Regions from separate parts of the Homo sapiens genome. Here all the other regions are linked to region 3. The links come from fine-mapping of genetic effects on gene expression. A gene starts in region 3. Each other region holds a variant in brackets. All regions are shown on one strand. Distances are from middle to middle.

What was found. PIP is the estimated chance that this variant, and not a neighbour inherited with it, causes the effect.
Region 1: its variant is fine-mapped to the expression of ARAP3 in whole blood (INTERVAL, PIP above 0.99).
Region 2: its variant is fine-mapped to the expression of ARAP3 in whole blood (INTERVAL, PIP above 0.99).
Region 4: its variant is fine-mapped to the expression of ARAP3 in whole blood (TOPMed, PIP above 0.99).

The regions. Positions count from the first base shown.
Region 1 is chr5:141,703,943-141,712,080 of GRCh38, forward strand. It overlaps LOC124901092 (a long non-coding RNA gene), which reads right to left. Exons shown (of 2, transcript XR_007058973.1): 1 at 900-8,138. LOC124901093 (a long non-coding RNA gene) reads left to right here and starts at 1,859. Exons shown (of 3, transcript XR_007058974.1): 1 at 1,859-1,935; 2 at 3,583-3,724. The variant G/A (reference allele first, on the strand shown) is at 3,876.
Region 2 is chr5:141,725,313-141,733,450 of GRCh38, forward strand. No RefSeq gene overlaps it. Among named protein-coding and RNA genes, the nearest start is that of ARAP3, 47 kb to the left of the region's middle. The variant C/A (reference allele first, on the strand shown) is at 4,946.
Region 3 is chr5:141,678,868-141,686,996 of GRCh38, forward strand. ARAP3 (ArfGAP with RhoGAP domain, ankyrin repeat and PH domain 3) reads right to left here and starts at 3,363. Exons shown (of 33, transcript NM_022481.6): 1 at 3,306-3,363; 2 at 1,096-1,636; 3 at 894-955; 4 at 678-789. The coding sequence starts at 1,619. RefSeq lists a silencer at 3,363-3,412.
Region 4 is chr5:141,657,994-141,665,993 of GRCh38, forward strand. It overlaps ARAP3 (ArfGAP with RhoGAP domain, ankyrin repeat and PH domain 3), which reads right to left. Exons shown (of 33, transcript NM_022481.6): 18 at 7,318-7,381; 19 at 6,929-7,092; 20 at 4,050-4,262; 21 at 3,691-3,796; 22 at 1,786-1,933; 23 at 1,415-1,483; 24 at 586-660; 25 at 372-486. Among named protein-coding and RNA genes, the nearest start is that of FCHSD1, 11 kb to the left of the region's middle. RefSeq lists an enhancer at 1-1,068 and a silencer at 7,179-7,248. The variant C/T (reference allele first, on the strand shown) is at 4,079.

The DNA.
Region 1 (8,138 bases), 25 kb after region 3:
CTGACTGCTGGCATACCAGCCACTGTTCTTCACTTCGTGGATACAGCTATGAGACAGGTAAATCTGGTCTCTGCACAGAGAGCTCATGTCTAGTAAGGGAGACCTAGGTCCATAAACAGCCTGGCCACAGGGTGGGCAGAGCCGTAACAGAACAAGCCCAGGCAACTGTGGGAGCACAGACGAGGGGTATTTCACCCGACTTGGCTTCCCAGAGGAGGGTAATTTAACCAGACAAAGATCGAGGGTTAGGAATGTGTGAGGGATGGGAGGAAAAATATTCTAAGCCCAGGGAATTGCCTGTTGGGAGGGCACAGGGATTAAGAGAGTGAAGTCATGAGTGATTGGAGAACTGAAATTTCCATCTCCCATAATGGTTAAAGAAACAGCTTTGGAATCAAATGCCTGGCTTCAAATTCTGGGTCTGCTATGTGCTAGCTGTGTGACCTTGGTCAAATTATTTCATCTCTCTGTGCCTCAGTTTTCTCTTTTGTAAAATGAGTCTATTAATAATAAGGGTTAATAATAATATCCATTTCATTGGATTGTTGTGGAGAATGGATGAGATGGCATTTGTAAAATGCTTAGCCCAGACCTGGCATGAGGTTAACATTCAGTAACTGTTAAATAGTATTATTCTTCACTGTTGCTGAAGATGAAGCCATGGTGTGGGGAGGGTGAGAGGTGAGGAGGAGGCTCAGATCATGAAGGACCTTATAATCCATGGTAAGGGGTTTGTACAAACCTAAGAACAATGGGGAATTGATGGAGTGACAAAATCATATTTGCAGTCATCCCTGGCATCCTTCCTGACGCCTTTCTTTCACACCCCACATGCAGTTCATCAGAAAACATTGTCAGCTCTACCTTCATAACTCATTCAGCATCAAACCACTTCTTACCACTTCCATAGACTCTACCCTGGTCCGAGCTATTATCATCTCTTCCCTGTGTTACTGCAATGGCTTCCTAACTAGTCTTCCCACTTCTACCCTTGTGCCCTTACTGTTTGTTCTTCACACAGTGGGTGGAGAGGTCCTGTTAAAATGTAAGCCAATTAAAATTATTGTGTCATGCCTCTGCTCAACCCCTCCACTGGTGCAGCATCTCACTCAGGGTCAAAGCCAAAGTCTTTATAATGGCCTATAGACCCTGCAAGGTGTGGCCTTCTGCCAGATCTCTCCCTCTTCTCATACTCCTCCAGCCTTACTGGTCTCTGTGCACTTTCTCAAACATGAACTTGCCAAGTGCCATCCCACCTCAGGATTTTACACTTGCTGTTCCATCTGCCTGGAATAACTCCAGGTATCAGCAAGCCTCACTCCCTCACTTCTTTCAGATGTCTGCTCAATGAGGGCTTTTCTCCCTACCTTATATAATAGCAAGCCTATATCCTGCCACAGGATATACTCCCTGACTCCCTCCTCTGCTTTCTTTCTTTCCATAGCAATGATCACTGTCTAATACTATACATTTACTTGACTACTTATTATTGACCCCTCACCTCCCCACTGGAATATAAGCCCCACGAGGGCAATAGTTTTATTCATTGCTGTACCCCCAGCATCTTGAACAGTGCCTGGCACAGAATAGGCTCTCAAAAACTATTAGTTCAGTGAATGAATGTGTATGCATCAGAAAAAGACCACTGTGATGCAATGTACAGAATGAATGGGGTAGGGTGGGGCAATAGCAGAGGCTGGGAGGGAGACCTTTGCAATCTTCCAGAGCAGGGATGATGTCATCACATATGGGCCAAGGTGGTAGAACTGGAGAGGAGTGAGTGGTCTGGAGAGAAATTTCGGTTTCATCTGCAGGGTAGGGGCTGTAAAAGAAAGGAGGAGGTGAAGAATGATAGAGATGCCCAAGTTTTTGGCTTAGACATCTTGGTGGACAGTGGTGCCAATTATTGAGATGGTGAAAGGGGAACAGGCTGAGGTGAGGAGTTATTGATGTGAGCATCTCTGAGCCTTGGTTGCCTTATCTGTGGAATGTAGAAGATGACCTCTGCCCTGCCTACTTTCTGGGATGGTTATAGAGACAGAGAGAGGTAAAAGAAATGGGATCCCTTTGTATGAGTGCCCGGTGGGTTCCCAGATGTAAAGCAAAATTATTACTATTATTACTATTAAAGTCAACTCGGGGAGATCTGACAGAGAGGTAAAATGAGAACCTGCAGCAGAATCTAATCAAATGCCAGCCTGGGTGGAAGCAAATGCCAGGAAGCACGATTTAGTCGATATATGCAGTGGGTGGTCAGGAAGGGGAAAGAACAATGTGACCTAAGCTGTCAGAGGCCATGTGGAGGTGGGAGGGGGTACTCAGCTGGATTCTGGAGTGACAGAGGGGGAACCAGAGCAAAGGTTGGGGTTTGGTCAGAGGTTCACAAGCAGAGAAGCCGTGGGGTAGCTTGGGGATCTGGGGGTAGGCAGAGAACCCTGGGCACAGGATGAATGATGGTCACCACCACAGACTTCCTTTTCCTATCTCCACCTACCAAATGAGAAAACAGTGGTAATTCTCAACTGGTAATTCAATCCAGGAGAATGGGCAGAAACCATCAGAGCATGGCCAGTGGGGATCTGCCTCTGCTGTGTCATCCAGCCAGTTTTGCTCATGCCCATACTTGGTGCTGAGTAGAATGGGAAATATGGAAATACACTCTCTAATGTTCATCAGGCACCTACTAAGTGCCAAGGAGTCATGTGAACTTGTAGACTTGGTTCCTGCCCTCTGAGAGTTCAGGGTCAAGTAGGGAGACAAGCATTCAATAAATACTTTGCAGAAGCCCTGAGGTAGGTACTGTCATCCTTGTTTTGCAGATGAGAGGCTCACAGATGTTAAGGTCATCTGTGGTAGAACCGAGATTTGAACCCAGGTAGTTTGTCTCTAAAACTGTAACCACTGACGACACTGCCCATGGTCAGAGAGTCTGTGATCCTTGGCTTACACGTGGCAGGGACAGACTTGTACTATTCTGTCACCAGAGCCCTGGAGGGGTCAACAGGAAGAACTTGGGAAACTGGAGGGAACTAAAGGAGCCCCACAGAGCGAAAAAGGATCTTAGAGGCCAACTTGCAGACATGGCTATTTATTTTTTTACAAATATTTATTTCATTTCTTCTATATTCCAGGTACTGTGTGAGATAGTGATAGGTAGAAGATTCATTTATTGATTCACTCAGCAACTATTGAGCACCTACTATGTGCCAGACACTATGCTAAGCTGTGGGGTTACAAGAGAAACCAAACAGACAAAACCCTTGCCCTCATTGAGCTTATGATCTAATGGGAAGACAGAAAATAAACAAGATAAATAAGTTTAAATATATATATGTAGTATGATAGATAGTGATAAGTGCTAAGAAGGATAAAAAAGGAATTATGTGAAGTTGAAATTTTAGACAAGGTAGCCAAGGAAGGCCTCAGTGACATGAGGTGAGAAGGGCAGGCCAGGCTCAAGTCATGTAAGGCATTGCTGGTCCTTGTAAAAAATACATAGCTTTATATTTTTAAAAATCTAAAACACTATGGGAGGCCAGCAGAATTTTTCCCTTTTGTTTTTGTGTGCATGATTTTATGTAGGAGTTCCCTGGAGACCAATGCTCATGGAAGAGGGGCAGGAGGCAGGAATGGGCAGAGGGAGAAGATGAGCACAGGCCCGGCAGTGGCCTTGGCCGGCTGGATGAGGAACTCCAGTGCTGGACACGCCTCTTCTAGAGCTGTCGTGAGTTGGGCTGATGGCTCATCCTTCATCTCCCCCATCAGTCAGTGCTTGGGTGTAGAGACCCACGCAAGTGGCATGACCTTGGATGAGGCAGTTCTTTGCAGTTGATGCAATCCCGGAGGGGCTTAGAGCTGGAGGCTATTTCCCAACA[G/A]CAAGCCAGTACCAGGGGCAACGAGCCCTTCTCTGAACAGGGGCCTGGGCGGCTGTTCATACTGTCCATCCCATGTATCTAGGCCTTTCTTTTTCAGCCTATGATAGTGTTTATTCAGTGGAAGTTTTTAACCATAAATGATATAATCTGATTCACATATAATTTTTTAAAACAATCACTCCAGTTTCTGTGTGTGGAGAATAGACTGGGGTGGGGGCAGGGTGAGGTGGGGAGACCAGTTTGAGGCTGAGGCGTGTGGAAGTCCCAACAGGAGCCCCTGGGAAGCAGAGGAAGGACAGGCTCCTTGAGGCTCGGTCGGGCCCTGGGCCTGTGCCCAGTGACCCTTCTCCCACAACAGAATAGCAAACACAGCGACCAGTCCGCACCTTTCAACCTGGGTGCGGTCCCAAGGTCATCCTGCATCTGGAGCCACAGAGGTGGTGGTGGTGGAAGATTAAGTCCTCAGAAGGTCAAGTGAGCTTGTGGCCAGGCGTAAGTTCCTTTAGAGTCAGGAACCTCAGCTCTGTGGACCCGTTTCCCAGCATCTGCATTTCCCCCTTCTTTCCCCTTTTTTCTTCCCTCTGTTTGGTTGATACGTTTCCTTTAAAAAATCTTACCTTATCTTAGCAGAACTGAGAGGAAAGGAGGTGTGCCTGCACTGGTGAAGGCTGGCTGGCACACTGTTTCCCCACTCCCCATCCCATCCCCCGGGCCAAGCATGGGGGTGTCGGGAACCTGTCCCAGCCAAGAGGAGGAGCAGATGGGCAAACCAGGAAAGAGAAGTTAAGGCCACTGAACCTCCTGCCTGGAGTGGACCTGTCCTTCAGGAAAGGAGTTGAGGGATGGGAGGGCTGGAAGTTTCCTTGGGCAGCCATTGGCAAGATAACAGGGTTGATCTGGTTTCTGGTTTCTGCTCAGATGCGTGATGCGTAGTCCCTAGCCTGGGAAAGTCCTAGCTAACAGATAGACCCAGGCAGCAACTTTTCTACCCTCACCAAATGGACAAGCAAGCTGCTTGTCTCACCCTCAGTAGTACCAGCGAAAGTCAAAGCTATGTAGGGTGGAACAGATCCCTCCAAAGAAACTGGACCCAGTGCAGGACCTGGTGCATTTGTGAACTCTTGCACTTGCTGTTCATTCTGGGAATGTTTTCCCCAGCTCCTGCATGGCTGGCTTGCTCATCTTCGTTCACGTATCAGTTCAAATCTCAGGCCCTCTGGCCACTCTGTCTAAAATAGTCCTCCCACTCCCTCCCCATCACCTCACCTGTTTGGTTTTGTCTCCCTAATAAGCACATATCACCATCTGAAATGATATCTTTTACTGGCTTATTTCTTGTATGCTTCCTCGGGCTGGATTGGAAGCTCCATGAGGCCGGGCCCCTTGCCTGTCTTGTTCATCTCTGTATCTTCAATGTCTAAAATAGTGCCTGGTAGGCACTTACTACATTGTGAAATGAAGGAATTAAGTGTCGTCTTCTCCCTCATCCCTCAAAACGTCAAGGATAAAATCAACCCTGTGAGCATATAAATGGCCATAGAGGGACAGTCCCTCCAAAGAGGTTGGGCGCAACCCTAAGATCCCAGGCCATGAGCCCAGAGTGGGAGTGTGTGTGTGCGCGCACACGTGCACGTGTAGTGTGCGTGCATGTTTTGTGTGTATGTGTCATTGTGCATGTTGTGTGTGTGTGTTTTTTGATGAGAAGAGAGAAAACCATTCACTCCAAGCTGAGGTTCCTGCTGCACTAAATACAGGGACTCCCAAAGTCTGATCAAAGGCCAGCTTCTTTTAGGGAGCGGGAAAGGAACAGGGGAAGGAGAGAGGGCTTCTGAAAGTGACCCCTAGGGCTCTGCAGGCCTTTGCAAGGCCTTAGGCTGTCAGCTGGGGGTGCCCACCCAAGTATGACCACATCATCCCCACAATTTCCAGACCCTCTGAACCCTGGCTGCCCCTCCTCCCAGAAAAGTGTCAATGTGAAGAAGGGGAATTTGCTCTATCAAGTGTGACCCAGGGTTGGTGATGAATACCAGAGATGGTAGGATCAGCTAGAATAACATGTCACACGGTGGGCTGCGTCCAGGAATGCTGGATTGGGTAACTGGCAAATTGAAAGGCTGCTTCATACTATAATGGTTAAAGAAAAAGGGAATTATCTCATGCCTTTCTTTTCGTCTATCAAGGTGTCAGCATATGCTAATTACCTGGCAAAGGCTTCAACGAGAAGAGGAAGAACAACTATTATATTTCTGAGGAAAGATTTATCTTGCGTTATTGGCGCCAGTTGGAGGAGGAGGTGGGGGTGGTAGGGGGTCAGAGAGGCAAAGTGAGAACTGTTTTTTGACTTGAATGGAATAGAAAATGCCTTTGAACTGAGGTTTTTCTCCTAAGATTAGAAATAATAAGCCTTGTTGGGAGAGGCTTTGCTCTGAGCCTGTGGGCAGAAGAGGGGGCAGCATGGGTGGAGGACTCTAGCATCCTAGGAGGTTGTGGGAAGGGGTCAGGCTGGGCAGTCGACTGGGCAGGGCACGTAGAACTCCTCCATTCATCCATGGATTGTATTAAGGAGGCTGTATAGGATGCGTGTTCAGAAGCACAGGCTTAGAGTCAGGCAACCCTGGGTTTTGAATCCTGGCCCCACTACCTCCTAGCTGTGGTCTATGGCACATTGCTCTATGTTTCAGAGCCTCAGTTTCCTCATCTGTGGGGAAAATAATACCTACTTTATATTGGTTACTGTCTTAGCTAAATGGTATCATGTGAAAGAGATTTTCAGTGTAGCTCCATAAGCAAGAGCACCGGTGGATATTATTACTCAGCATATGTTTTCTGAGCACCTACTGCAGTTCAAGCACTAGGGAAACAGGTTAATAAGTCAGATAGGGCTCTGCCCTCCAGGAACTTATCACAAAATGGAGGGCCTGAATCTCCTTTGGTTCCCTCAGAGATCCCAGAAAGTGAAGAAAAGGGGTACAGGGAACAGGGAAGGGCCCTCAAGCTTTACATGAGGCTGTGCTTCCCCCATTATAATGATAATAACAGTGAACTGGATGCTTGATACACATGAACTCGAAGTGGAGATTTGGTGGGTAAGTGTTGAAGGCTAAAGGATCACCCCAGGAAGGAGCTTGGAGGTGTCAGAGCTTAACAGGATTGAGTTTGCAAGAGACAGGCGAGGGGCTGGTCAGGATCCAAGCTGTGGAGACCAACACTGGGGGTCTAGTACCTCCAAGGGGGTCTGTCCTCAGGAATGGAAGGTCCTGGGGCCAGATGGACTGACTCCCATGAGTTGACCCCAATGCCAATGTCAAATTTCAGCTGTCCCAGGCCCCTCCATTCAGGATCAGCAGCTGTGAGCAAGTGAGCTGGAGAGGCAGCCTGACATGGTGGCAAGTGTGCAGCCAATGGTGCAGAGATCTGAGTTCAAATCCTATTCCTCATACTTATCAAATGGTGGACTTGGGTCACTTCCTAACCTCTCTGTGCCTCTGTTAAATACAGAAAATGAACTCTAACTGTGGGGTTGTTGGGCGGACTAAAAACAAGGCATTCGAAGCACCTGGTGCACAGTAGACGTTCCCAAATGGTAGAGGTGATTACTAAAATTGGCCATCCTTGCCAACTATGTCTGATTCACTGCTGGCCCCAACCCCTGTGGCCTGGAGAGGCATTTACTGCTCTGGGGATGGCAGAGGAAGGAATGGGGGTGGCACCAGGTGGGTTGTGTGGCAGGCAGAGACTTTGAGCAGGTAATGGCTGTCACAGACCAGCAAATCACAGGTGTCGGGAACAACAGGAGTTACGCTCAGACTCCAAAGAACAAACACGCAGCACAAGACGTTTTGCCAAAGCAAAGCTGTTTTGATCGTTCCCGGATGTGACATGTATCGCATGAGGAAAGAGAGCCTCTTGCACTGAGGCTGCCTAATGGACAGCCGGCAGCTCCAAGCAGAGTGGCACTGGGCAAGGTGAGGATGAGGGTGGAGCACCCTCCTCATACTGCTGGCCTCTCCATCACCGCAGGCAAGGCTTCATAGCAGAAGCACTCTTGCCTGTGGAGTGAGGGAGGCTCACTATTCCCAATACCTCCAGATCCAGCCCTGGCCTCCACCTCTGCAGCCCCAGCCTGCATCACTCCTGGAACCCAGGCTCTGTGCCAGTCTAATTGAACTTCAAAACTTTGCCAAATGCGCCAGGCTCTGTCTGGCCTCCAGGCCTTTGCATATGCTATTCTCTCTGCCTTGGATTCGCCTCCCACCCACCTGG
Region 2 (8,138 bases), 46 kb after region 3:
TCTTTCCTTTGTTCCCACATCTAAGCATAGACTGTTAGAAGCAGCCAAGCCACTTGTTGCTCAACACTTTGCTGCTTAGAAATTTCTTTCTCGGCTGGTTGCAGTGGCTTACGTCTATAATCACAGCACTTTGGGAGGTTAAGGTGGGTGGATTACCTGAGGTCGGGAGTTCAAGACCAGCCTGACCAACATGGAGAAACCCCGTCTCTACTAAAAATACAAAATTAGCCGGCTGTGGTGGCACATGCCTGTAATCCCAGCTACTTGGGAGGCTGAGGCAGGAGAATTGCTTGAACCTGGGAGGCGGAGGTTGCAGTGAGCCTCACACCATTGGACTCCAGCCTGGGCAGCAAGAGCGAAACTCGGTCTCAAAAAAAAAAAAAAAGAAAAGAAAAGAAAGAAAGAAAGAAATTTCTCCAGATACCCTAGGTCATCACGTCCTCTCTCTCTCTCTCTGTTTTTGAGGCATGGTCTGGCTCTGTTGCCTGGCTGGAATTCAGTAGTGTGATCCCAGCTCACTATAGCCTCCACCTTCCAGGCTCAAGTGATCCTCCCACCTCAGACACCTGAGGAGCTGGGACTATAGGCACAAGCCACCATGCCCAGCTAATTTTTATATTTTGTGTAAAAATCGGGTTTTGTCATGTTGCCCAGGCTGGTCTTGAACTCCTGAGCTCAAGCAATTCACCCACCTCCACTTCCCAAAATGCTGGGATTATAGGCGTGAGCCATCAGGCCCAGCCCCCAGGTCGTCACTCTCAAGTTCAAACTTCCACATATCCTTAGGGCATGGACACAGTCCAGCCAAGCTTTTTGCTAAGTCATAACATGCTTGACCTTTGCTCCAATTCCCACTAAGTTTCTCATTTCCATCTGAGACCTTGTCAGCTTGGCCTTCATTGTTCATATCACTATAAGCATTTTGGTCACAACCATTTAACCAGTCTCTAAGAAGTTCTAAACTTTCCCTCATCTTCCTGTCTTCTTCTGAGGGCTCCAAACTCTTCCAACCTCTGCCTGTTACCCAGTGCCAAAGTTACTTCCACATTTTTTTTTTTTTTTGAGACAGAGTCTCACTCTGTTGCCCAGGCTGGAATGCAGAGGTGCGATCTCAATTCACTGCAACCTCCACCTCCCAGAGGCGATTCTTGTGCCTCAGCCTCCCAAGTAGCTGGGACTACAGGCATGCACCACCATGCCCAGCTCATTTTTGTATTTTTAGTAGAGACAGAGTTTCACCACGTTGGCCAGGCTGATCTCAATGTACTGACCTCAAGTGATCTGCCTATTTTGGCCTCCCAAAGTTCTGGGATTCAGGCTGCTTCCACATTTTCAGGTATCTTTGTAGCAATGCCCCACTCCTCAGTACCAATTTTCTGTATTAGGCCCTTCTTGCATTGCTATAAAGAAATACTTGAGACTGATAATTTTTTCTTTTCTTTTTTCTTTTTTTTTTTTGAGGCAGAGTCTCACTCTTGTCACCCAGGCTGGAGTGCAATGGCGTGATTTTGGCTCATTGCAACCTCCACCTCCCGGGTTCAGGCAATTCTCCTGCCTCAGCCTCCCAAGTAGCTGGGATTACGGGTGCCCACCATCACACCTGGCTATCTTTTTTTTTTTTTTTTTTTGTATTTTTAGTAGAGATGGGGTTTCACCATGTTGGCCAGGCTGGTCTCGAACTCCTGACCTTAGGTGATGAGACTGGATAATTAATAAAGAAAAGAGGTTTAATTGGCTCATGGTTCTGCAGGCTGTACAGGAAGCATGATGCTGGAATTTTCTCAACCTCTAGGGGAGCCTCAGGAAACTTACAGTCATGGCAGAAGGTAAAGGGGGAGCAGGCACATCACATGGCCAGAGCAAAAGTAAGAGAGAAAGAGGCAGGGAGGTGCCATACACTTTTAAACAACCAGATCTCATGAGAACTCACTATCATGAGAACAGCACCAAGAAGGGGATAGTGCCAAATCATTCATGAGAAATATATCCCCTTGATCCAATCAGCTCCTACCAGGCCCCACTTCCAATACTGGTGATTACAATTCAACATGAGATTTGGGGTGGGGACCCATATCCAAACTATATCATGGGGTCTTGCTATGTTGCCCAGGCTGGTCTTGAATTCCTGGGCTCAAGCAATCCTCCTGCCTCAGCCTCCCAAAATGCTGGTATTACAGGTATGAGCCACTGTGCCTGGCCAAGAGGATTCTTTTATAAGGGCACTAATCCTCATGATCTAATCATCCCCAAAGGCCCTAACTCTAATACCATCACATTGGTGATTAGGTATTCCACTTATGAATTTTGAAGAGAAACCAACATTTAGACCATAGCAACTGGGCTCTCCAGCCATGGAAAATGGGTTAGGGAAAATATGAGAACTGGCTAAGGGTATCTGTATGCTCTCAGCCCCCGTCTCCAAAAGTTGGTCTCTGCCCATGACCATCTGTGTAAAATGACACAAGGATCCTAGTTGGGTCATCTTCACTGTGCCAAAGGCAAAACAAGTTCTTTAAATTTACTGCAAACGCTCATTGGGGATGGACCAGAGTGTTTGTTAACTCCAAACACCAATAAATGCTGATAAATAATGCTATTAAAAACGTGTTATTGCTCTGACACTTTGTTATAACATCTTTCCTCTTACGTTTTCCCCATGTAACATTTACTTTAAAAGGCCCCAGCCAAAAGCCGAACGCCAATAAAACTGCACCAAGTCTCCCAGAACATCTTCATTTATGAAACAGTCAAAGACTCAGCTTCAGGGAGAAGCCAGTGAGATATTCCACTGTTTTGTAAACTTTGAAAAATCTGTAGCTCCTGTAGCTGAGGCCTAACTGCACATTGCATTTGAAATTTTGAAGCTTCAATTGCTTAAAAATATTGTAACTGCTTCTCAAACAGGAAAATTGCATTTAGATTTCCCTCTGTGTTTAACCTCAGACTGGCAAGAGATAGTCTTCAAATTTCCCCGGCAAATGAAAATCACTTTAGGATTGAGATTGCATATGGATAGTTCCTGCCATGAGAAAAAGAAATCTCCAGGAACAAATACAGTCATACCTTCTGTGCTGGGCCCATAACGTGGAGAAATAGATGATCATTTTGTCCTATAATCCACAGCATGAGGGATTTGGGACAGAGACAAGGAAAGACATTCTTGAATATGAGGTTCAGCCAGATCTGAACTGTTACTAAGGGAAATTGCAGTGTCCTGCACTCAATTTTCTTAGAGCCAGCCTCCTATAAAATTGTTCCATTCCTTTGGCACTTTCCATGTCAAAATTCCCATCTTCCCCACGGAGGCTCTAGTGCTTTCAAACTATCTCTTCTCAGTCAATCTTATAATTCATTCAAACTAAAGTGTGACAGTTTGCATTTTAAAGGGATTCAATGGGAAGAGGGCAGTGCTTTACTCAAAGGAATTAGTCAACATTGGTAAAATTATAGGCAATGACAGACGGTCTATTAGATGGAGTGTTAAACAGTGATCTACTTATAAGAGTGGTTTTACCTCTGATAAATGCATCCACTTTCCTCCCTCCCTCCCTCCCTCCCTTCCTCCCCCTCTACTTCCTCCCCTCCCCCCCTTCCTCCCTCTCTCTCTTCCTTTCATCTATTCAACAAACTTCTCTGGGGTGCCTGCTCTATTCCATTCTTTATGTTCGGTGTCGAAGTCTTGGAACAGGAACTTCCCACAACAAAGGGAACTGAGCCCAAGAAATAATAATCATAATCATAGAACTACAATTACCATTCATTGAGCGGGTGCTTACTACATGCTGGGAACTATGCTAGGAGCTTTTTCTGGATAGCATTTAATCTTCACAACAACCCAGTGAGGTAGGTAGTATTACTCCCTTTTCACAGACAAGAAAATAGAGGCACCATTCTTGGTCCAAGTTCGCACATATTAGGGTGTGTTACTGGGATACCAACACAGGCAGTCTGATTTCAGAGCTTTCTGTTCCAAGCAAGATTAGATTAAAATAAGCATATAGGGCAGGCTTTGAGGGGGCAAAGTACTTAAGGTGCTCTGGTCTACCTGAGGAGTTGTTTTAAGGGGCCGCAAGAAAAGCCAGCCTCTTGCTGAGTGTATAGGAGGCTCAGGTGAGGGGAGCCCCAGAGGGTCACCCCACTCTTGCGCACTCTCCCCCACGTCATCCCCTCCTCCTACTAGCAGATAGCAGAAGCCAGCAGCCTGGCTGTGCCCCAGGCCTGGCTCTGGTCAGGAAGAGGGGATCTTTTGTGAGTTTCTGGCCTGGTCTCCATTAACACCAATTAGCGTTTCTGCCTGCTTGGAGCTGCAGGGCCGACAGGCTTCTGTGATCCTGGTGGCTGGAGGTTCTGGCCTAGAAATGCTCAGGATGTGGGACAGAAGTCAGAGAGTCTGAGGGGAGGGACTTTGTCATTGAATGGAGAGGAAATGGGGTTTCACAGAGGCTCCCTGGGGCCCAGCAGCCTGGAGGACAGGGTTCTCTGGGGCCAAAGAGAAAGAAGAGAAAAAGACATCTAGGACTGCCTCCACCCCACCCCCGCATATCCCACTGTGTCTTGGCTAGGAAATTGGGGACTGGTTGTTGAGAGAGGAGGAGAAGTTCAAGAGTGGGCTCTGACATTCCTGGGCTTGCGCACCACTCTAGGATGAGTTCTTCTAGGAGCTTGGCTATCTAGAGTTGTGAGTGCCTTATTTCACCTTAAAGCAAGCCCAGAAAATTGGCCTCTGATTCCTCAGTAATCTAGGATTTGTGGCTGGCCATGGGTAAGCTTGAATAAATGGTATCAAATTAGCAGACTGAGTCCTTAGGAAGAGCTGGGAAGGGGACTGCCAGGAAAGCCTTGTCACCCCTTTATGAGGCTGTCTTTGGCCTTCTGGATGGATGTGGGTGAGAGATCCCTGAGTCCCTGTGGCCTGGGGAATGGCCCATGTCCACCTGCCCTAGAT[C/A]TTTCTTGTCTGCGTGTTCCCTTAACTCTCCTCCCTTATCCTCTGGCTCCCTTCGTGTTGTCCCCTCCATCTGTCCTTTTTGTCCAGTTGTGGGCTTCTTCTTGTTCTTCCCTCTCCATTGAGCCTGCTTAGCCGGCCAGCCCTCCAGCAGGGGTGATCATCCGTTTTCACATTTCCAGTGCTTACTTGGACTGGACCACTCACCTTGCTCCTGCTTCTTGCAGGAGGGCTGTCTCCCATGTTGTCTGAACAGCCAGTAGCTACAGATGTCCAGGAGCTGGTGAATATCACCCTTTGCCTGGCTCCAGCTCCACCTGGTTGCCCAGATCTTCTTCAGTGACCCACCCAGGTGCCCCAGGGTTTTCCAGAACCCCATCACTATAGATTCAAGAACATCACTTCACCTTTCAAACACAGAACTTACTGCCTACCTCTCCCCTACTCGCTACTGGGGCCTTTCTGAGCAATGCATGAAGGGACGGGGAAGTGGTGTCCACAGTAGGAAGGACCCAGGCCCAAGCCAAATTTTCTCTTTTCTAACCTCTGGCCCCGCTTCTCTTCCTTGCAGTCTCCACTCTCTTCTTGGGAGCTTCTCCAAGTTTCCATGGCAACCACTACTTCCTGGCCCCAAATCCCTAGGACATGGACAATTTCAAGGTCAGACAGAGGCCTGAAGGGTGATAGAGGCCTTATATTGACTTCCCAGGCCCCTTCTCTGTTGCTGCAGGATTCCTAAACCTAGATGACAAATGATCATTTCTTTCTGTATTGAAAAAAAGAAATTCACCATCTCCAAAGCCTCTCTTATGAGAGGCAGGTACTGCTGCCCCCTCTTCCTTTCTAAGTCTCTTCTCTCTACTTCTTGGCCTTATCTGAGCTTAGGCTAAAGCCCCAGGATACACCCCAGTCAGAAAGAGGCTCAGGCCCAGTTGGGCAGGGCATGCTATGGCCATGAAACAGATACCTCATCAGCTTTCACTACGTTGTCTACTTCGGGTCCCCTGGGCTGTGGGAGGCATGGGAGAGGGGCAGGGGACATTGCTGTGCTCTGTGGCAGGACCTGAGAAAGGTGCTTAGATGCCTATATACTAAGGTGTTTTTCTGCAGCCTGGACAACCTGTGAGGTTTTCCTGTCTGCCTTTTGAGTTGAGATCGGATGTCCTGGGCTCTGACTGCACATCAGCCACTAATATTAATGCAGATGGAATCGGAGCATTTAGACAAATACGTAGCTCCCATTTCCTGAATAGTTAGTGAGAGTCACTCAAGCATCATAACCTTGATGGAGAGAGCTACAATTATCCCCATTTTACAGATGAGGAAATGCAGGCTCAGAGTGGTTGAGTACTTGCCCAAGAACAAACAGCAAGAATGGCGTGGAGCTGGGATTTGAATCCAAATGTCCAGAGCTCCTGCTCTTAAATGTTGCAAAATACTTCATAGGCAGGACTCTTGCCACTTCCCGCAGCTCAACTCAGTGCTTTAGCTGGGTGTTGTCACCACTGGGGCTCTGAGGCCAGAAAGCTAGAGTCATGAGAGGCCAGGAGCTCTAAGGCCTGTCTCAAGGGACCTGCTAGTGTCAGGGCTCTGGGGCTGGGAAGGAGCTTTGAGAGGCTTTCTCTCCACCTGATGGCCACCCATACCCACCCTGTCATTGGGGGCTGACAGGAGCTGCTTTGCCAACAAAGGTGTCCCTGAAGCTTTCTGCGAGCTCGTCACATACCTCTCCCAGGCAGGGAGTCACTGGGCTTGACTCTGCCTTTCTAGCAGGTGCTGCTGCCACTCAGGGCTTCCTGAGGAGGAGGAGTCCTCCCAGGGCCTGCCTCATGCTCCCATAGCTTGAGATACACAGTCAGCATGTTCCTGCCTTCCCCCCAGCCCTTTGAAGCTGGGGTCACTAAGCTCTGGAGAAATAGCTCCCCACACCTAGCAGATAGAGCCTGGACTACCCGGTGTTGTGACAAGCTGGAGAACCTCCAACTGGCACTGAGGCCCTCTGTCATCTAGATCTCCCTTCCTTACACAGCTGCTAGCATGGGTTCCTTCCATCAGACTGGTCCCATGAACTGGCCCCTGGGCCTTTGCTGTACATGTTGATTTCATGCCTCTCCTTTTCTCTCCCCTTCTCCCCTCTCTCTTCTCTGTTTGTCCAAATCCTGCCCACATAGGAAGGTTGAGCTCCACTCTCACCTCCCCCAGGGAGCCTCTCTGGACTACTCCAGCCTACAATAAGAGCTCCTTCCTCTGAGCTTTCACAGCTCACAGAATATAACTAAATTCTATGGTATCTCTCATCATATATTAGTCTTGTTTTTCCAATTAGTCCATCAGTCCCTTGAGGGCAGGAGACCACAGGTGACCCCTTTTTGCCTCTCCCAGTGCACTTAGAGAAGGGTTGGGCTTTCTTGGAACTCATCCATGACTGGTTGGCTAATTGGAATCTGCTGAACTCTATTCAGGGCCTGGCATGTATGTGTACACTGTATATAGATTTCATGTGTCTGTGTGTACCCTTGATTTACATGTTTGCACACATATGTAAGGTATCTGTGCTCATGCATGTGAATTATGGTTCATGTATGGCACTATGTGAATAAATGGTTTAATTAATTCAACAGGCATTTATTGAGATCCTGTCACAGCTGGGCACTGTGCCAGGTGCTGGGGATATGATGGTGAGTAAGAAATGGACAGCCCTAGCCCCTCAGAGCTGGGAAGAGAGACCATTAAAGAAGTGATAATAATAAGTGAGCTAAGTGCCATGATGGGGGAGCACATGCCAGAGGCCCTGACTTTAACCAGTCTAGGGAGACAGATCAGGGAAGAACTCATGGAGAAAGGAAAAGTTGGCAAAGACTTAGTCTGTTGAGGGTTAAATTGTGTCCCACTCCCTCCAAAATATATTCAAGTCCTAACTCCCAGTACCTGTCAATGTGACCTTATATAGAAATAGGGTCTTTGCAGATGTCATCAAGTTAAGATGAAGTCACACTGGATTAGTGTGCACCCTAATTGAAAGACTCTGGTGTCCTTCTAAGAAGAGGGGACACAGACACAGACACAGGAAGAATGCTATGTGACCACAGAGGTAAGATTGGGGTGATGTGTCTACAAACCAAGGATTGCAGCCACCGGAAGCTCTTGAGGGCGGGAGACCACAATTGACTGCCTTTTGCCCCTCCTAGTGCACTCA
Region 3 (8,129 bases):
ATGTTTATTGTTAATAGACTATCTCCCCACAAGGGCAGGGATTTCTGTGTACGCTGATCTATCCCAAGCATCTACATCCGGTGCATGATAGTTGCTCAATAAATATTTGTTGAATGAAAAAATGAAAAGCACTTCTCCTGGTTGGGCACAGTGGCTCATGCCTGTAATCCCAGCACTTTGGGAGGCCAAGGAGGTAGGATCACCTGAGGTCAGGAGTTCGAGACCAGCCTGGCCAACATGGCGAAACCCCATCTCTACTAAAAATATAAAAATTAGCCGGGCATGGTGGCACGCACCTGTAATCCCAGCTACTCGGGAGCCTGAGACAGGAGAATCGCTTGAACCCAGGAGGGGGAGGTTGCAGTGAGCCGAGATTGTGCCACTGCACTCCAATCTGGGCAACAAGGCAAGACTCCGTCTCAAAAAGAAAGAAAGAAAGAAAAGCACTTCTCCCAATTTTCCATTATATGACCATTGGTTTGTCTACTTGTTTTATTCCCTGTCTGTCCCACTGAGTCACAAGCTGCCTGAGGGTGGCACTAGGTCTGTGATACTCATCCTGTATCTTGAGTGCCTGGCTGGTGAATACTCAATGCACATTTGTTGAATAACTGGATACATGGCCGCCACCGACTCACCTGCTCCTCCCTCCCACCACTTCCCTATTTAGTACTCACCTGTGTTCAGCCCTGCCCTGACAAACACCTCTGCTCTCTCTTCTGTCGGGGGCTCCTGGAGTCCCCACAGGTTGGACACCATAGTACAGGCAACCAGGATCCATGATGTGCACTGGCAGGAGGAGAGGGGAACGCACAAGGAAGAGGAGATCGCTGGGAGTGTATGAGGTCCTGCCGGCACTATCCCTCTCCCCCAACCCGTGATAACCCAGTTACCTGTGCCTGTTGTGGGCCTGAGGGCAGGGGTGGGGGCAGAGATTTGGGAGCTGTCTGGGGCCCTGAAGGGAAAGGTCTATTGGTTACTTAAGGAGAGAGGAGGAAGAACAAGCCTTCATGCCCTGCTCCCCGCCTCCGTCCCCCTCATGCTCTCCTCCCCACTCCTCCCAGCATCAGTCCCTAGGGAGCCAACTCCACTCACTTGTCCTGAGCTGCCTGTGCCCTGCCTCTTGAGTCCAGGCCGAAGTAGATGGAATTAGGCATCATCTCCACAGTATTTAGGGCTGAAGACTGCTCAGAGGAGGAAGTGGGGAGAGGAGGAGGCCTTGGGCTGGGCTCTGGGCTCCTGGACACTCCTGGTCCCCCGAGGGCTGGGCTCAGCCCAGGTCTCTGAGTGGTGGCAGGGCCACTGAGTCCACCAAACACGGTCCTGGGCTTCGGCACGGGCTTAGGGGGCTGGGCTTGCGGGGCTGGGCTGGGGGATGGTTCCATGGCACTATCTGATTTGGGATCCAGGGAGCCCTCTTCGGTGCCTGTCTGTAGCAGGCGTAGAATGCGTTTCCGGTGCCCTGTGGCGCTGATGCCCAACTGCTTCAACTCCTCGTGGCCCAGGCCCCGGGCTGCACCTGCTGTAGCCAGGCCATGCCGTCGGAACGTGTCTGCATACTGCTCCAGGTGCACCGTGGCCAGCCACACAGCGATGTCCAGGTCCTGAGGGGCAGCCATGGGGGCTCAGGCCATTGCTGGGGGGAGGGGCAGGGTGAAGGGAGGGCTCAGGCTGAGAATCCCCCTCTCTGCCCCAGAGTCTGAGGCCTGGACAGTGAGCACCAGCCTCCAATCTTCCTCCAAAGAAAGATGCTGAAAGGCCTGCGATCTGGAAGCAGAGCCATCCCAGAACAACAGCAATGGCTCTCTACTTAGGGAAGGGACTTCATTTGAAGTTAAGGAAACTGAGGCCCAGAGAGGGGAAGGGGCTTGCCCCAGGTTCACAGTAAGTCAGTGCTAGAGTTGGCCCCTCAGTTCCTGCCCACCCTGGGTCTGGGTCAAAGCTCTGCTCCTGCCTGACTGCACATCCAACTGAGTAAGCATGGGACAAGATGCTAGAATGCTGTGGGTCAGAGTGGGATAGGGAGATGCAGAGGAGGGGCCAATGATGTGGCCAATCAGCTCTGGAGTAAGGTAGGGAGAGGGGCAGCCTAGATAGGAGGAAGGAGGTGCAGACGCCCCCTCCCTCTTGTTTCCAGAGCCGATGTATGCAGGCCTGCCGTCCTAATCCTGGTTGTTCCCAGTCCCTCCTCCCCTTCCACCTATTGTCTCTGCTCAGACTTCCTTCCTGTCCCTCCAGCCCTGGCCGCCTCCACATCCTGCCTGCTTTGGTCAGGCTGCCGGGAGAGCCCTAACCAGTCCTAATGTGTGGGGTCCCGGCCCTGGGTGGAGGCTAATTGAAGAATAAGGATGGGGATGCCAGAGAGATGAGGCCTGACCTCTGGTCAGGGGTACTCCAGAGGCTTCTGGACTCTCTGCCCACCGGCAGCATGTTCACATGCTGTTCACCTGTGTGTGCACATGCCCTGTAGCGATTTGGCAGTGTGAAATGCCATCCCCCCACCTCTGCTTTCTCCAAGCCTTCCTTTTCTGAGCTTGCCTTTTCCCTGCTCATTCCCTTGGGCTCAGGTCTCTGTGCTCTGTCCCCCTTCCACCAGCCTGACCCCGACCCTGACCCTGGTCTATTTCATAGACCTGTCTCTAATTCTGTGGCCCCTGAGTTTTATCTCTGCCTTGTCACTGTCCCTGCCCCATTCCATCTCAACCTCTCAATTCTTCTTTGTCCCTCTCCTTGTCCCACCCTGTTTTGCTCTCTGTTATTAAGCTTGTCCTTGACTCAGTCTACAATTCTAACCAGATCTTGAGTTGTATCTGTGTCTCTGTCTGCCTCTGAGCCTGGGTTTCTGTCTTCCGCCTCGGCCTAGGCTCTCTCCCTGTTACTCTTGTGCTCTGTCGGTGACCAGGACGCCCTCTCCGTCCCAGCATCACTGCTGGCCTCCCTCTGCCTCTCTCCAGCTGGGCCTCATTCCCAAGCCAGGGCCCGCGTGCTGAGCCTCGGGCCCTGACTCAGGGCCCGGTTTCCCGGTGACTCAGGCCGGGCTCGACAGCACGGGGCTGGGAGCTGAGGTGCTCGCGGGACAGGAGTGGCGGGGGCGGGGCGGGCAGTGGCGGGCAGCGCAGGCTGCGACGAGGGAGGGGGCGAGGAGGGATGGGGCAGAGGCCGGGCAGCAGGAGGGAGGGGCGGGTCGTGGCAGGGATGGGGAGGGCCGCCGGCGCCGAGGGGGCCTGGGAGCCCACGAAGGCCCTCGAGAAGGTGATGGGGAGGAGTCTGGGAAGCAGGGACCCGGGGGGCGCGGGGGTCCTCACCTCACTACGCGGCCGCCGTCCGCTCGCGGGTGCCCGCCGCTCGTCCGAGGTTCTGGGTCCCGCCGCGCCGGCCCCGCCTCCCCTCTGCCCTCCCTCGACGGGCCCAGCCCCGCCCCGCCCGGCCGGTTCCCTCCGCGGGGCCCCGGCCACTCCTTGTGCAAGCGCAGGCCTCCAAAGGGTTTGGGCTTCTTGCCCAACCGCCGCGCTTATCTCCGAGTCTGCCCCCAGTCTGCCCTCTCGCAGGCCGAGAAAGGACCAGAACACGTTGGGACGAAGACAACCTCAGGGAGAGGGACAAAGAGGCAGAGACCGGGACGGAGACTGGGACGGAGGTAGAAACTGAGAAAGGGAGAGTGCCAGGGACGGCTTTGCATCCTCTCCGCTGCTCCCATGCCCTCCAGTCCTGCCAAAAGGGAGGAGGAAAGGTCGAGCCCTAATCCCCCAGGGCACCTCTCCCACGCCCGGAAGGGTGGCTGGACCCTGGCAACCAGTTTAGTGTGGGGACGGAAGCTGGACATCCAGAATTGAGACTTGGCCTGGGCAACAAGCGCAGAGGCCCAGCAGAGGGGTACCCGTCTGTTTCTCCCCACTTCCATCCCCAAGGGCCCGGCCTAGGTTCCTTCGAGGGATGAAGGTCCGCAAGGCACATCCCTACTTCCAAACCAAGGTTTGGGGCTGCCTTTTTGGGACAGGCGGACGCCCTGCAAGCTCAGTGACCAAGCAAGCAGCTGTTTCATTCATGGGAGAAGCCGCCCCTTCTCCCCAACTCCCACCCTAAAATTTCAGGGGGGATGCCGGGGAGGCCTGAAGAGGAATGGCCCTTCTCTCCTTCGCTAATCTTGCCGGAACCCCGGTCCTGGAGCCTGTCTCCCAGGGGCGGAGGCACTTCCCTCTCTGAGCAGGACCAGTGTTTGGGTGTGGGGGGGGGGTGTTTGTGTGTGTGTGTGTGTGTGTGTGTGTGTGTGTGTGTGTGTGTGTGTGTGTGTATGTGTTGGGGGTGGCGGGGGCGCTGGCCGGCTGTGTTTTCCTGTTTGTATGAGAGGAAGTTGGCTGTGAGTCAGCAGACACAGGAACTGTCAGTAGCTAGGGGAAGACCCCTGCCTCAGGGGAAGAAGAGGGGAGTGGGAGGAAGTGGTTCCCACCTCTTCCAGCTGCCTCAGCTAGGGGAGGGACTGTCATCTTCAACCTACTGGAGCCCCACTTTCCCGGCCTTCCCTTTGAGAAAGAGAATTATAGTAATAAAATAATAATTGCAATAGCCATAATAAGGGCTACCAATTATTGAGAGCTGACCGTGCTCCAGGATCTATGTAAACATTGCTTTGCAAACTTTAATCCTCACAAATATCCCTACAAATAGGAAATTTTATCACCTCTATTTTACATATAAGGAGACAGGGAGCATTAAATAACTTGCTCAAGACTCTGCAGCTAGAAAATAGCCAACCCTCCAAGTCTATATCTATAACTACCATGCTCACCTACCACCCTGGACAGGACCCCTGCACCATGTCCTTTTTTTCAGATGGGCAACTGTGGTGGCAGTGAGAATGCTCCTCACAGATCTTACACTGTGAGGAGTGAAATTAACCAATGGCCCCAGCTGCTTCTCTCTGAAATCTAAGGCCAGCTTCCCACTGGGCTGCTCCCAGCCAGTGACAGAGCTCAGCAGAGATCTAAGGCAGACCCATTCCTGGGAGATAGGGGACTCCTTTGACAGCTGACTTTGGATCAAGATTTCCCAATGGCTTTGCTGAACTTTCCTTTGACTGGTGTTTTAGGATGCTCCTCTCAACCTTTATTCCTTCCCTCTCTCCTTCACAGCTCTCCTAGCTCCAGGCTCCCTTCCTCTCTCACAGGCATCTCCCCTAGTCAAATCCTTGCATTCTGCCTTGGCAGCTTCTTCTTTAAGGACTCAGACTAACCCAGCAAAATAAGGGAGCAGGAAAAGACAGTAAAGGGCACAGGGAGTTTTGAGGAATGGATGCCGGGGAGTTTGGGTCAGGGGCTAGATGCAAGAGTTCTGAACCTTTTTGTGCCATGTTCTCCTTTGGCAATACGGTAAAGTATGTGGTCTCATCTCAGAATAATATTTTAAAATGCATAAAATAAAATATATAGGATTGCAAAGGAAACCAATTATGTTGTAATACACATATAAAACCGATGTGATATAGTAATATATGTGCTTCTTTATTAATGCTTTAAATAAGATCTAGTGGTAGGTTGATACCTCACATAACTTTGATGCAGTGATGAGCATAAATGGTATTTCAAAAGATCTGCAATATTGTAATATGATATAAAAATATATGTGATTTCTACTGGTGACAAAGCCATAGTTATGGCTAAAATGACTGGTTTGTTGCTATTGTCATAATTGGAGGAAATGTTAAATTTCAGCTAGAGATTAGTGAAAGTAATATTCTTTTCCCATCCAAGTCCACTGACTCCAAGTTAAGGACACCAATGCCAGATGATGGGGCAGAGCCACAGAGAGGGAGACCTGGCTTCCTCCCTCAGACCCCACTTCCCTTCTTTGGCTCAATGATATGGGGCAGGTGGAGGCTTCTGGCCCCTGGCTTGTGTCTTCCTGAGTTCAAGCAATTCTCGTGCCTCAGCCTTGTGCCTCAGCCTCCCGAGTAGCTGGGATTACAGGTGCCTGCCACTACACCCAGCTAATTTTTGTATTTTAGTAGAGACAGGGTTTCACCATGTTGGCCAGGCTGGTCTCAAACTCCTGTCAGGTGATCCATCCACCTCAGCCTCCCAAAGTGCTGGGATTACAGGCGTGAGCCACCATGCCCGGCCGAAATTAGTAAATCTTAAATCTTAATCTTAACACATAGGACAAAAGGGACACTAGTGAGCAGAGGAAGAGGAAGAATGAAGCAATGAGGAGATGTGGAAGGGAATTCTTCAATAGCCCCTTCCATGTCTCGATTTGTTCCCCACTCAAATGATAGACTATTAAGCCACAATCACTTTGGAGGCCACTTTGTTCACCAAAAGTGGATGGTATGCAGTAATTAAGAACAAGGTCTCTCGGCTAGGCACTGTGGCTCACACCTGTAATCCCAGCATTTTGGGAGGCCAAGGCAGGAGGATTGTTTGAGAGCAGGAGTTTGAGGCCAGCCTGGGCAACATAGCAAGACCTCGTCTCTACTAAAAATTTTAAAATTAGCCAAGTGTGGTAGTGTGCACCTGTAGTCCCAGCTACTCAGGAGGTGGAGGTGGGAGGATTGCTTGAGCCAGGAGGTGGAGATTGCAGTGAGCCGAGATCGTACCACTGCACTCCAGCTTGGGTGACAGTGAGGCCTGTCTCTAAAAACAAAACAAAACACCACCACCAACAACAACAAAAACTAAAACAAAAGGTCAACAAAAAAACAGTCTCTAAAATAAAGCCCTGATGCCACCTCTACCAGCTGTGACCTGAGCAGATTATTCATCTCTATTTTGCCCTGTGTGCCTCAGTTTCCTTTTCTGAAAAAAGGAGAGAGAATAGTGCCTGACAGGGTTGTAAAGATTAATCTATGGAAATATATGGGTAATATGTGGAAAGGACCTGACATTCAATGAGTGCTCAAAGTGTTTCCTGTTCCTTGTTCCTATTTTTGCCAGTTACTTCCATGATAACTCTGGTATGCACCCAGCTTGCCTGTTTCTTCATCACTCTGGCATATCCCGTTACCTATTTTAATCAATCAGCCTGTGGCATCCTATTGCCAAATTAGACCACATTGTACCCCTTGTATTTTCCCCAGGGTCCCCAGTTGTCATCTTGTCTGTTCCATCACTTTTGTAACTCAATTTCCTGTCACCCCTGCAACTCCTGATCGCCTCCATGGTCTCCAGTGGCCTCCAGGTCACACTCCTTTCCTGCCCTTACCCTCTGGATGGTAAAAGGCACAGCCATCACCCACATTTGGTCCTGATGAGATGGGACAGGGCCTAGGGGGATGCCAAGGTGCAAGTTTCTTTTTATTTATTTATTTTTTTGAGACAGAGTCTCCCTCTGTCGCCCAGGTTGGAGTGGAGTGGTGCGATCTCGTATGACTGTAGACTCCGCCTCCCAGATTCAAGCGATTCTCCTGCCTCAGCCTCCCTAGTAGCTGGGATTACAGGCGCCCACCACCACATCCGGCTAATTTTTGTGGTTTTTTTTAGTAGAGACGCAGTTTCACCATGTTGGCGGGGCTGGTCTTGAACTCCTGACCTCAGGTGATCCGCCTGCCTTGGCCTCCCAAAGTGCTGGGATTACAGGCGTGAGCCACTGCGCCCGGCCGAGCATGTTTCTTACAGGAAGGAAGACTCCCATTCAATCCTTTCATTTATTTCTCATGTTTTTATTAATCATCTTTTCTGGACCAACCACTGCTCAAGGGTTTAGAGATGCAATGACGTGCTCAGCAGACTTTAGGGAACATGACCTGCTCAAGAAGTGAGACATTTATCAAACAACCCCCAAATAAATGTGTAATTACAAACCAAGATGAATTTTCTGAAGGGAAGCACTGTAAGAGCATATAACAGAGGCAGCTGACCTGGCCTGGGGGTCTGGGAGGCTTCTGCAGGGAGCTCTGCTTAAGTTGAGATCTCAGAAAGATGGGTAGGAGTTAAGCGGGATGGGAGGGAGTGTTCTAGGCAGAAGAACCACGAGTGCAAAGGCCCTGAGGTAGGAGTCAGCCTGGTGAGGAAGGGAGACAGATCAAAGAGACAGGGAGTTTGGGACCAGCTGAGACTGAAAGGATCTCAGGGGCCAGGCCATGCAGGCCCTTGGAGGGCTTGTATGAGATTTGGTCTCCATGCCAGGAGCCATGG
Region 4 (8,000 bases), 21 kb before region 3:
TAATGGCATTTAAAACCATGAGAATGGGTTAATTCATCCAAGGAGAAATGTAGATAGATGAGAGAAAAGGGCCTAGGATTGAGCCGTGGGTCTCTCCAACATTTGGAGTCTGGGCAAAAGAGGAAGAGAAGCTCCCTTTAAGGTAGAAGGTAAACTACGAGCTTGTGGGGGTCACTAAGGCCAAGATGGAAGAATACTGAGAAAGAGGGAGTGAGTCAACTGTGTTGAATGTCCCCTCGCATGGATGAGTGGATGAGTCATCCATGAGTTACCATTCATATTTGGTAACATGAAGTCACTGATGACCTTGACCACACAACCACACACACGCATATACACATGCATGAACACACAGGCGTGGTCATACTCACCCAGCTCCCCATGCTCGCGAATCTCAAAAGTCACCCACAAGTCCATCCCAGCTGCTGTCCCCCGCATCTCCAGTACCTGGTTAGTCAGCTCCTCAGCAGTCAGGGTTGGGGACACCTGGGGTCAGGGCAAGAGCAGAGAATTCATGCTGGTCAGGCTATTGCCCCTGGAACCTCACTATCCTCTTATTTCCCCTCCAGTCCCCTCAGGACCAACCTTCAGGGTGACACAGTTGTCTGGGAGCTGCTGCTCTATATAAACTTCCATGATGAGGTCTCCAGCCTGAGACAGCTGAGGGGAGGGGTAAAAAAGTCAGAAGGGCAAAAAAAGGGTGCAAAAGACATCAAAGTCAGAGGGTTCCTCGTGTTGCCTCATAAGTGACTCTTCCAACAAAGGTCTCCTCCCAACCCCAATGTCACTCAGGCTCTTAAAAGGGAGACCTCTGGGAGTGGCAGAACTGCATCTTTAGGCTGCACATGTACTTCCCAAGGCATCATAGTGGTTGGGAGGACAGATGTGGAGTCAGACTGCCTGGTCTCTCTGCCACTCGCTACAGGGTGACCTTGAATAAATGACCCGCTGAACCCGTTTATTTGAAAAAAATGAGATTACCTACTTCATGGAGTTGTATCATACTAACATGAGATTAGAGATGCTTGGAATATAGTAAGTCCTCAGCTATGTTTGCTATTATATTTATTATTATTATTCTCACTGCTTTGTCTGACTTTACTAACTCGTCCTTGGATCTCTTACACTTAGTAGTATGGTCTCACTTGATGTTCCCACAGAAAACCAAAACCAACTATCCAGTGCCAAGATTATCACCAGGAAGAATCCTCATGGTGGAACAAATGGAGCAAACCCTAACCAAACCCCACTCCCCAAAGCACTTCTCTCATTGGGTTCCCCCTGTCTCCCAAAGAGCTGAGTGCTAGTGTCCAGAAGGACAGGCTGGAAACTTCCTCAACTGGGCAGAAAGTCAGCTTCCTGTCCTGATGTCTCCTCCTGCCCCATTCAGGAGACTAAGGTCAGGACGAGTTACCTGCACGTCCTTCCAGGTGGTGATAAGACTGACCTCCAAGTCAATCTGAGCTACCTGGTCAGAATCGATCTGTGAAAGAGCCAAAAGAGAGTGTTGGGGTGCTGGAAGAGGATCTGCCGGGAAGATCTCAAGGCCAAGGAGGACCTGTTTAAGAGGGCTGGAGGCCAGAAGAGCTAAGAACCAAGGGGGTGAGGATGTTGGAAGTGAAGTTGTGGGAGAAGAAGGGCCAGGGCTCTGGGAGGTAGTTCCTGGTATAGCTGGCCACCAGAGGCCTGGGCTGGGGGCTTGTTGGGGTGATCAGGATCCAGAGTCTCTGGGTCCTGCAAGGGTAGGGGAAAGGGGTTGTGGGTTAGGGGTCAGGAAAGCCTTACATCAAAGACAGAGATGTAGCCATCAATGAGCTCTTGCAGCACTCGCACCTCGTGCTCCCCTCGCCCATCCGTCTGGAACACGCTGGGTGCAAACAGCAGAGCCAAGTTCCGCGTGCACATCTGGTTTAGAGCCGCACATTTCTGCACCCTGCAGAGGGGTGCCACGGTCTTCATCAGTGTAGCCACTCATTCAGCAAACACTTATTGAGTCCCTATTGTATGCCTGGGCTAAGTGCTTGGAATACAGCAGTAAGATAATATTGGCCTCAAGGAGCTCCCAGTCTAGGGGAGACAGATAAGGCAAGAATCAGCAAACTTTTTATGTAAAGGGACAGATAGTAGACATTTTAGGCTTGCAGGACAGACAGTCTCTGTTCTAACTCTCAGCTCTGTTGCTGCATCATGAAAGGAGCTATAGAAAATATATACATGGGCCGGGCGCGGTGGCTCACGCTTGTAATCCCAGCACTTTGGGAGGCCGAGGCAGGCGGATCACGAGGTCAGGAGATCGAGACCATCCTGGCTAACACGGTGAAACCCCGTCTCTACTAAAAATACAAAAAAAATTAGCCGGGCGTGATGGTGGGTGCCTGTAGTCCCAGCTACTCGGGAGGCTGAGGCAGGAGAATGGCGTGAACCCTGGAGGCGGAGCTTGCAGTGAGCCGAGATTGCGCCACTGCACTCCCGCCTGGGCCACAGAGCAAGACTCCGTCTCAAAAAAAAAAAAAAAGAAAATATATACATGAATGGGTGTGGCTTTACACTTTATGTACAAAACTTTATTTACAAACATAGGCAACAAGCTGGATTTGGCCCATGGGCCTGTAGTTGACCAATCCCTATAATATAGTATATTTTTATTATTTATTTATTTTTATCTTTTATAGAGATGGGATGTCTCACTATGTTACCCAGGCTGGTCTCCAACTCCTGGGCTCAAATGATCCTCCTGCCTTGGCCTCCCAACATGTTGGGATTACAGGTGTGAGCCACCATACCTGGCCCCTGTAATATAGTATAATCAGTGCAATACAGAAATGGCTTCTCCCCAGAATTGCTCAAAGGCCTGTCTCCCTAACAGATTGGTAAAGGTAGATGTGCATCTTATTCATTTTTGTGTTTCTTATATCTAACCCTTTCCCTGACATCGCATAATAAAACAAAATAATATTGATTGCTAACCATTTCTGAAGGCTTATGACATGCCGGATGTACTGGCATGTACTATAGTTAAGAATTTTATGAATTTTAACTCTTTTTGTTCTTTTTTTTTCCTTTTTTCTTTTTTCTTTTTTTTTTTTTTGAGACAAGATCTCCCTCTGTCACCCAGGCTGGAGTGAAGTGGTACAATCTTGGCTCACTGCAACCTCCACCTCCTGTGCTCAAGCGATTCTCGTGCCTCAGCCTCCTGAGTAGCTGAGATTACTGGTATGTACCACCATGCCAGGCTAATTTTTGTATTTTTAGTAGAGGCTGGGTTTCACCATGTTGGCCAGGCTAGTCTCAAACTCCTGGCCTTAGATGACCCGCCCACCTTGCTTCCCAAAGTGTTGGGATTACAGGTGTGAGACACCACGCGCCCAGCCTTCATTTAACTCTCTCATAAACTATGAGGTGGATATGATTCATTACATCATCCATTACTTCCTTTTAGAAATGAAGAAATTGAGGCCCAGAGAGAACAAGTAACTTACCCAAAGTCACACAGCTAGAATGACGGCACCAGATTAAAGCCTAGGTCTGCCTGATCCCTCAAATCCATTCTCTGAACCTTAGTGCTATGATACCTTCACTTAACAACTGTTTGTGGAATGAACAAATGAATGAATGAATGAATAAATGAATGAAAGTGCAGGGTCAGATTGAAGTGAGGAAGGGTTCTGCAGAGGGTCTAGCCATACTGACCGATAGAGATGCCCAATGAGGGTGGCCAGTGTGCGGCGGTTGACCCGCGGCAGGCAGCCAATCACATCTTTATATTTCTCCAGGCGCTGATTCTTCTGGGGCAGCTCTGGGGATGGAATGGAGGAGGGTTGGGGAGGACCCGGGAAGAAAGAGTGGCAGCTGGTACAGAGGGAGGGATTTTTAGGCACAAATGCAGGATGGATGTGTCTCTGCCCCCTTCCCACCTCCCCCTGAGCCAAGTCTCTGGATGATCCCCCAGGGTGGGAAGTGATGGGGCGGAGGGCTGCCAAACCATGGATTCTGGTGGGGGAAGGCAGAGATCCTGGTTGGGCCTTGGCTCTCAGGGATCTTAGGAATACCAGCAGCCTCCCTCCAGCGAGGCAGCAAC[C/T]GTGCAGAGGTCACAGGGTCATCGAGCTCACGAAAGAAGCGTTTGAGTGTGTCAGTGACATCCTCCACAAAGTGCTCCCCTGGTCGGAGCTTCACCGACCGGGCATCCCGACGGAACTCAGCCAGGAGTCTCAGGCTGCGGGCACGAGCGCCCCCTTTCCGGTATACACCTTCCAGCCGGAGCCCTGAGGAGAGCCAGCCGTCTCTGCTCACCATGGTGCAAAGGCTACCACCACCCACCACGGCCCATCTGTGGCCTCCCTATGTGGTATGTGGCTGATGGGGGCATGGGATTCAGAGAGGAGGAGATCTATGCCTCCATGTTCTTGATTCTCAGGTCTCTGCTGGAGTCCTCATCCTCAGAAAGTCCTTCCCTGACCTCACTGTCACAAGTACAACCCCCATCACACTGTATCTCCTCACCACTTTTATTTTTAAATAGCACTCTCTGAAATCACTTTATAGTCCACCCTTATTATCTGTGGATTCCATATCTGCACATTCTCCTACTTGCTAAAAGTTATTTGTAACCCCAAAATCAATACTTTTGGCATTTTCATCATCATTTATGAACAGAGTGAAGAAAAATTTAAGTCCCCTCCCCAATGTGCATGTTCTTACTCTAAACAAGTGTATCCTTTTAATGGTATATTTACAGCCATATTTTTGTGCTTTTTGTTGGTGACTTCACTGTTTAAAATGGCCCAAGTATAGTGCTGAAATGCTGTCTAGTGTTTCTACGTGTGAGAAAGCTGTGACATGCCTTACAGAGAAAATACATGTGTTAGATTAGCTTGAGTTACAGTGCTGTTGGCCTTGAGTTCAGTGTTAACAAATCAAACAATATATATAAAATAAGGTCTCTTTACACAGAAAAACACACAAAACAAGGATACATATTGATCACTTGACTAAAATGTTATTGTAACCAGAGGCTAGCAGGAAGCTAACCCTGTATTTCCTCTGGGGCAGTGATCCAGTATTCACTAATTAAATGTTTGCAGTGACTTAGAGCATAACTACCACAAATAACAAGAACAGACTATATTTGTTTTCTTATTTATTACCTAAGAGATGGGTAATAAATAAGCTTCCTAGGACCCTCCTAGGACCCACCCTGCTTACTGCCATATCCCCAGTGTCTGACACACGGTAGCAGCTCAACCAATGTATGCTGACTAAACAATGGTGGTGCAGGAACCTTGGAGGGGAGGGGATGAACACCCAGATTCTTTCTTTTTAATTGAGACAGAGTTTTGCTCTTTCACCCGGGGTGGAGTGAAGTGGTGCCATCTCAGCTCACTGCAACCTCACCTCACAGCAATTCTCCTGCCTCAGCCTCCTGGGTAGCTGGGATTACAGGCACCCGCCACCATGGCTGGCTAATTTTTGTATTTTAATAGAAACAGGGTTTCACCATGTTGGCCAGGCTGGTCTTGAACTCCTGACCTCAGGTGATCCACCTGCCTCGGCTTCCCAAAGTGCTGGGATTACACACTTGAACCACCACGCCCGGCCCCATATTCTTTCTTCAGGGCTTTCTCACTGGGCCTCTGACTTATTTCCTCCTTCGAACACGAGAGAGGCTGAGAAGAGGATAAGGATGTAGCGAGTGGGGGAGGTCACTGAACAAGGCCACTGCCAAGGCATGGAAAATGTTATTAGCCACTGACTTTCCATGTCCCATGACTAGTAACAATTATGTGTATGTTTGTGGAGGCGCTGTTTTTTTCCTTACAGTCAGCCCTCTGTATCCATGGGCTCCACAACTGCAGATTCAACCGACATCAAAAATATTTGGAAAAAAACCCCAAGATAACAATATAACAACAACAAAATACAAATAAAAACAATACAGCATAACAACTATTTCCACAGCACTTGCATTGTATTAGGTATTATAAATGATCTAGGGATCTGCCCACCTTAGTTTTCTGTGAATTTTCCTTCTTAAGAGTCCAGCCTTCTAAAGAGGGTTCACAGGAGAAATAGATTCTTTTCGGTCCTTATTTAGGATAAAAAACTTACAAAGGGCCAGGTGTGGTGGCTCACACCTGTAATCCCAGCACTTTGGGAGGCCAAGGTGGGTGGATCACCTGAGGTCAGGAATTTGAGACCAGCCTGGCCAACATGGTAAAACTCACCTGTACTAAAAATATAAAAATTATCCAGGTGTGGTGGGGCACGCCTGCAATCCCAGCTACTTGGGAGGCTGAGGCAGGAGAATTGCTTGAACCCGAGAAGCGGAGGTTGCAGTGAGCTGAGATCATGCCACTGCACTCCAGCTTGGGCAACAGAGCAAGACTCCATCTCAAAAAAAAAGCAAACAACAACAACCAAAAAAACTCACAAAGAATTATGGGGGCCACTTGCACAGCTGACCATTTAAGCCCAGAAAACCTCCCACACAGAATAATTCTGCTTAAAACTTCTGGGAATGTGCTGCACAGCTCAGCTCTCACCTCGCAGCTGCTCGCTGTTTGCCATGGCTCTGTGTCCTCAGTCACATTTTCAGTGCTCCTCCCCTACTCCACACTCTGACGAAACTTCTGAACACTTACTACATGCCAGGCCCTGCGCTCAAGGCTTGACAGGCATTGTCTCACTGTCACAATTATCCTGGAAAATGAGGACCGTTGGCCCCATTTTACAGATGATGGAACTGAGGTTCAGAAAAGCAAAGCAGCCTGCCAAGAGTCAAATGACCAGCTGGGGTCCAGCTGCAGTTTCTGGAGGCAAAGCTCTTCCAGGCTGTGCTCACGTTCCACCCTGGCTGTGCTCACGTTCTCCACCCCCTCATCACCCCCACCCCCCACCCCCATTGGCTCAGTACCAGCCAGTGCCTACTCACCATGCTGGGTAACAAAACTGATGCAGGCATCCACGATGATGGGGATGTCACCCCGGCTCATCTGCTGCTCCTGCAGCCCTGTGCCGCCCCCACCAGCCGCGCCCCCAATGGCTGCGTTCCATGCCGTGAAGTCCAGCCGGCCCTCTCCTTGCAGATACAGGGTCCTGAGACCCCAGAGGCCTGAATCAGAGCCAGCTCCGACAGGCCCAGATGCATGGGGACCAGACTTCCCAGAGCCACCAGCAGAGGGCAGCAACACCCAACCCAAATCATCCTGGAGCAAGGGAAGAAACTTTGAGGAAGTGGGCAATGGCCCAGCAGGCCAGGTTGCAGAGTATGGGCTCTGCTCCAGGAAGGGGAGCCCCAGGTCAAGGGCAGGGGCAATTTACCTTCCTGTCTCCACCAGGACCAAATGCTCTTTCTTATCTGGGGTGTCAGCTGCAGAAACCACACCTGGGAGGAGAATCAGTGGACATTTTCATGATTATCGTCTTCATTATAGAGACTATTATTTATTAAATGCTTAACGTGCATAGATGCCAGGCTAGGAGCATTACAAAAAACGTTCAGTTGAATCCTATGAGTTATGTACTATTATTCCCATTTTATAGGTGACACATTAATCTCAGAAAGTTTAAGTAACTTGCCCCAGATTACTTGCTATAAAATGGCAAGGCTGAGCACAAACCCAGGTCTCTTGTTTCCAAAGTCCTAAAATATTATCTTACATTGTTCCTCTTTTAGGAGAAAGGAAAGCAGTGAGGGCACCCAGTCCCCTCTCCCAGGACCCAACCAGCAAGTGATTCCAAATAATAATAATATTTATAGACCGGGCGCAGTGGCTCACTCCTGTAATCCCAGCACTGTGGGAGGCCAAGGTGGGTGGATCACCTGAGGTCAGGAGTTCAAGACCAGCCTGGCCAACATGGTGAAACCCCTTCTCTACTAAAAATACAAAAATTAGCTGGGCGTGGTGGCGGACACCTGTAATCCCAGCTACTTGGGAGGCTGAGGCAGGAGAATTGCTTGAACCTGGGAGGCGGAGGTTGCAGTGAGTTGAGGAGTTGAGATC